Regions from separate parts of the Homo sapiens genome. Here region 1 is linked to region 2. The links come from fine-mapping of genetic effects on gene expression. A gene starts in region 2. The other region holds a variant in brackets. All regions are shown on one strand. Distances are between the middles of the regions. Region 1 overlaps GABPB2 (GA binding protein transcription factor subunit beta 2). Region 2 holds the start of BNIPL (BCL2 interacting protein like).

Region 1 (2,731 bases), 76 kb before region 2:
TTCATAATGCTTTATTTATTTATTTATTTATTTATTATGAGACAGAGTCTCACTCTGTTACCCAGGTTGGTGTGCAGTGGCAGAATTATGTCTCACTGCAGCCTCAACCTCCTGGCCTCCAGTGACCCTCCCAAGTAGCTGGGACTACAGGCACACAAAAGCACGCCTGGCTAATATATTTTTTTTTTTGTATTTTTTTTTAGAGATGGGTTTCGTCATATCGTCCAGGCTGATTTCAAACTCCTGGGCTTAAGCTATCTGCCGGCGTAGTCCTCCCAAAGTGCTGGGATTATAGGCATGAGCCACTGTGCCCAGCCAGTTTTATTTTTAGATAGCTGAAACTGGAAGCAGCTTAAATGTCCTTCACTGGGTAAATGGTTAAACAAACTGTGGTACATCCATATCATGGAATAATCTCAGCAATAAGAAGGAATGAAATATTGATTCAAACAACAACTTGGATGGGTATCAAGGGAATTATGCTGAAAGGAAAAAAGCCAATCTCAAAATCATGTATACTGTATGATTCCACTTATATAACATTATTGAAATGACAAAGTAGAGGATGGGCACGGTGGCTCATGCCTGTAATCCCAGCACTTTGGGAGGCCAAGGTGGGCGGATCACCTGAGGTCAGGAGTTCGAGACCAGCTTGGCCAACATGGCAAAACCCTGTCTCTACCAAAAATACAAAAAATTAGGTGGGCATGGTGGCATGTGCCTGTAATCCCAGCAATAGATTTCTCTGTATTATTTCTTAGAACTGTACTGAATCTTTAATGATCTAAAAATAAAAAGTTAAAAATTATATTTACGTTTTAGGATATATTATGATTATTTTAAAACAGAAGATTTGGCCAGACACGGTAGCTCATGCCTGTAATCACAGCATTTTTTTTTTTTTTTTTTTTGCAGTTGGAGTCTCCCTCTGTTGCCCAGGTTGGAGTGCAGTGGCACGATCTCTGCTCACTGCAAGCTCCGCCTCCGGGGTTCACCCCATTCTCCTGACTCAGCCTCCGGAGTAGCAGGGACTACAGGTGCACGCCACCAGGCCTGGCTAATTTTTTTGTATTTTTAGTAGAGACAGGGTTTCACCGCGTTAGCCAGGATGGTCTCGATCTCCTGACCTCATGATCTGTCCACCTCGGCCTCCCAAAGTGCTGGGATTACAGGTGTGAGCCACCGCACCCGGCCAATCACAGCATTTTGGGAGGCCAAAGTGGGAGGAAAGCTTGAGTCTAGGAGTCTGAGACCAGCCTGGGAAGCTTAGCAAGACCTCATTTCTATTAAAAAAAAAA[AT/T]TGAGGGGCTAGGCGCAGTAGCTCATGCTTATAATCCCAACACTTTAGGGGCTGAGGTGGGCACATCACTAGGTCAAGAGATCAAGACCATCCTGGCCAACATGGTGAAACCCTGTCTCTACTAAAATACAAAAAAAAAAAAAATTAGCCAGGCGTGGTGGTGCACACCTGTAGTCCCAGCTACTCAGGAGGCTGAGGCAGGGGAATCACTTGAACCTGGGAGGCAGAGATTGCAGTGAGCCGAGACCATGCCACTGCACTCTAGCCTGGTGATAGAACGAGACTCTGTCTCAAAAAGAAAAAAAAAATTCGGGAGCTCCTTCCTTTTACCTCGTTGCACTCTTGAGAGCAAGATGGGTTACCAGCAGCTCTACTGGAGCCACCCACAAAAATTTGGCCAGGGTTCTTGCTCTTGTCATGTCTGCTCAAACCAGCATAGTCGGCCAGGTGCGGTGGCTCACACCTGTAATGCCAGTGCTTTGGGAGGCCGAGGCCGGCAGATCATGAGGTCAGGAGTTCAAGACCCGCCTGACCAACATGGTGAAACCCTGTCTCTACTAAAAATACAAAAAATTAGCCGGGCATGGTGGGAAACGCCTATAATTCTAGCTACTCAGGAGGCTGAGGCAGGAGAATCGCTTGAATCCGGGAGGCAGAGGTTGCAGTGAGCTGAGACCACACCATTGCACTCCAGCCTGGGCGACAGAGTGAGACTCTATCTCAAAAAACAAAAACAAAAACAACAACAAAAAGAAAAAATCAGCACAGTCTGATCCGGAAATATGGCCTCAATATATACCGTCAGCCTTTCCATCAGTACATGAAGGATATAGGTTTTTTTTTTTTTTTTTTTTTTTTGAGATGGAGTCTCGCTCTGTCGCCCAGGCTGGAGTGCAGTGGCGTGATTTCGGCTCACTGCAACCTCCACCTCCCGGGTTCATGCCATTCTCCTGCCTCAGCCTCCCGAGTAGCTGGGACTACGGGCGCCCACCACCACGCCCAGCTAATTTTTGGTATTTTTAGTAGAGTCAGGGTTTCACCATGTTAGCCAGGATGGTCTCGATCTCCTGACCTCGTGATCCGCCCGCCTCGGCCTCCCAAAGTGCTGGGATTACAGGTGTGAGCCACTGCGCCCAGCCACAGGATATAGGTTTCATTAAATTGGACTAAGTGATCTCTCTTGAATGGATTATCCAAGGCATGCACCCAATTAAAAACCATGTTAGCTCTTCATATATGAAAATTAAAGGCCGGGCACAGTGGCTCATGCCTGTAATCCCAGCACTTTGGGAGGCCGAGGCAGGTGGGTCACAAGGTCAGGAGTTCGAGACCATGGTGAAATCCTGTCTCTACTAAAAATACAAAAATTAGGCCGGGCGCGGTGGCTCACACCTGTAATCCCAGCACTTTGGGAGGCCGAGGCGGGTGGATC
Region 2 (3,020 bases):
CACCTCAGCCTCCCGAGTAGCTGGGCCTACAGGTGTGCACCACCACACTTGGCTAAATTTTGTATTTTTGTAGAGATGGGGTTATGCCATGTTGCCCAGAGTAGTCTTGAACTTCTGAGCTCAAGTGATCCACCTGCCTCGGCCTCCCAAAGTGCTGGGATTACAGGCATCAGCCACCACGCCCGGCCTCTGTTTTCTTTTTCCCATTTTTTTCCTTCAAGTCCTAATTCACCATCCCTGTGTCCATTTGCTTTTTTTTTTTTTTTTTTTTTTTTTTTTTGAGACAGAGTTTCACTCTTGTTGCCCAAGCTCGGGTGTAATGGCACAATCTCAGCTCACTACAACCTCTGCCTCCCAGGTTCAAGTGATTCTCCTGCCTCAGCCTCCCGAGTAGCTGGGATTACAGGCATGTGCCACCACACCTGGCTAATTTTGTATTTTTAGTAGAGACGGGATTTCACCGTGTTGGTCAGGCTGGTCTCAAACTCCTGACCTCAGGTGATCCACCCGCCTCGGCCACCCAAAGTGCTGGGATTACAGCCATGAGCCGCCGCGCCATCCCCTCCGTCCATTCGTGACCACCCCTCCCTTCTCCCAGCCACCCTCACACGTCCTCACCTAGGGAATTCTTCATCCTGCCATTCCTCCTTCAGCTCCAACTCCCCATGTCTCAGGGCTGCTCCTAGTTCTGGTGCTTCTGCAATCTCCCTGACCCTAAGACAGCCCCCAAGAAGAAAAGATCAAGGGAACTGAATAGTAGGTAAGAATAATTGAAATGAAGAACAGTAATTGAGATACAGAGCAGAGGATAGGCCTTCAAAAGGACTCAGATCTCTTGCCTCCTATACAGATGCTTCTCTTACCTTCACCACTTGCTAGAAGCAGATTACCTGCTGTTAAGTTTGGGAGCAGACGAAAGATGGAATGTAAAGTTAATCATATTTACCTCTGTAGCAGTTGCTCCACCTACAAAGTTGGGGTGAGAGATGTCCCACATTACAAGTGGCTGGAACCCAGCTAGACCCACCCAGCTATCATTGAGCAAAGTCGGGAAGACGGTACCTAGTTAGGCCTGCCTTTCCTCCACCGAGCTGGGGAGTGGCTAAGGGAAAACATGGCATAAGTGGAGGGGTGGAGGAAGAAGGTAAGGAGAAAGATTTGCCAGAACGAGAACCTGGACCTAAACTCGGTTCTGGTTCAGCTTTCCTGATGGCCATTCTGGAGGGTGAGGGTTAGAAAATAAAAGAACACAGGCAGATTTATCAGGTACAACATATTACAGAAACTTCCTTTATTTTTAAACCAGGGAATTATCCTGGAATCCTGTTCCCCAGTTCCATACCATACTGACATTTCCTACCTAAAACCACCCTCATCTCTTCTCTGCAAACTCTCTTACAGTCTTGTCTCCTTGAGGAACCCGAGATTTGACCCAGTAAGAGCTGGGTGGTGGGGAAGTCTCTCCGGACTGTTTATTCACTGTTACCAATCAAGTGAGCCAAGATCTTACTTACCCAACATCTGTCTTTTTTCCTGCCTCTTGTATAGTTCCCATCTTCACAAGTCTTCCTGCCTCCTTCTTTAAACACCTAGGAGTTGTTGGGGAGCTGGTTGTCCCAGCCCCCAACACTTCCTTACCTCTTTTCTGTCTCAGCTGTTGTAGCTCTTGCCTCCAAGGAGGGAGGTGTGGAAGGGAGGTAACCTCATCTTCAAAACAGGTTTTGCCACTCCTCTCCCCAGGAGCAGGTTTGCCCAAAAGAAAAACCCTGCCTCCTGTGAGGGGGCGGGTTTTGGGGAGGAGAGTGCATTTTCTAGTGGGGGCCAGTCTCGGTTGAGTCTAGGAAGGCAATTTGTTCTCCTTTCCAGACTCCATATATCCCTCTCAAAGTTGCTCTTTACACAAATAAGCAAAAAAACCAGTAGAAACCGTTGTGTTTCTGGCCGGGCGTGGTGGCTCACACCTGTAATCCCAACACTTTGGGAGGCCAAGGCAGGCGGATCACCTGAGGTCGGGAGTTTGAGACCAGCCTGACCAATGTGGAGAAACCCCATCTCTACTAAAAATCCAAAAAAAAAAAAAAAAAAAAAAAAAAAAAAAAATTATCTGGGCGTGGTGACACATGCCTATAATCCCAGCTACTTGGGAGGCTGAGGCAGGAGAATCGCTTGAACCTGGGAGGCAGAGGTTGTAGTGGGCTGAGATTGTGCCATTGCACTCCAGCCAGGGCAAAAAGAGCAAAACTCCATCTCAAAAAAAAAAAAAAAAAGAAAAAGAAACCATTGTGTGTGTTTCTAGGACTGTTATCTTGGATCTACTTTTCAAGCATAAGGAAAACTGGGGAAACGGAAGTATGTTATAAGGAGGTTTCTGGGAGAATAAACAAGTTGAACGGGAGGCTGAGGATGAGGGGAGACAGAAGCCTGTTGCTCCTTATTCCCAAAAAGAGTCAACAGAAAGAAGACATTAAGTATAGTAGGAAGAAGGGGGATCAATTTTGAGGAGACTGAAACAACTATCACAGAGAAAGGCCTGAATACACTTGTAAAAAAAGACAGTAAGACCCCCAAACAGGAAAAAATTATTTAATAGTATAACAAAATGCAAAATAAAGTACCCAAGTTACAAAACATAAATTCCTTTGGTTCATGATCACACCACTATTTTTACCTTCCACATAGCTACAGACATCACACCCTCAAAGTGAAGTCAAACTGTCCCCCTCATACTGAAGATGTCATGCCAAAACCATCACATACCCCACTGTTCAGTGAAACTGTTGGCAACTTACATGGAACAGAGCTGTGGGGTAGGAAAAAGGGGAAAGGGTTGCGTTAAAAAAAATGGGGAGACTCTACACATGCAGAACAAGTTAGTGGGAGGGAGTGCTCTGCTGGGTCAACACGCCATGAACCACACCCCTATTCGTGCTACATGAGGCTGAGTCCTTGCTACAACCACACAGAAATACAGACAATCAAGTGAACCTGAGCACCCCCAGGGATAACAGAAGAAAAATACA

The links. PIP is the estimated chance that this variant, and not a neighbour inherited with it, causes the effect.
Region 1: its variant is fine-mapped to the expression of BNIPL in whole blood (TOPMed, PIP 0.98).

What each region holds. Positions count from the first base shown.
Region 1 is chr1:151,111,650-151,114,380 of GRCh38, reverse strand. The region is part of intron 7 of GABPB2 (GA binding protein transcription factor subunit beta 2); the gene reads right to left. It also overlaps the pseudogene RPS29P29. Among named protein-coding and RNA genes, the nearest start is that of SEMA6C, 34 kb to the left of the region's middle. The variant AT/T (reference allele first, on the strand shown) is at 1,299.
Region 2 is chr1:151,035,261-151,038,280 of GRCh38, reverse strand. BNIPL (BCL2 interacting protein like) reads right to left here and starts at 1,695. Exons shown (of 10, transcript NM_138278.4): 1 at 1,515-1,695; 2 at 619-714. The coding sequence starts at 1,555. It overlaps PRUNE1 (prune exopolyphosphatase 1), which reads right to left. Exons shown (of 8, transcript NM_021222.3): 8 at 2,568-3,020.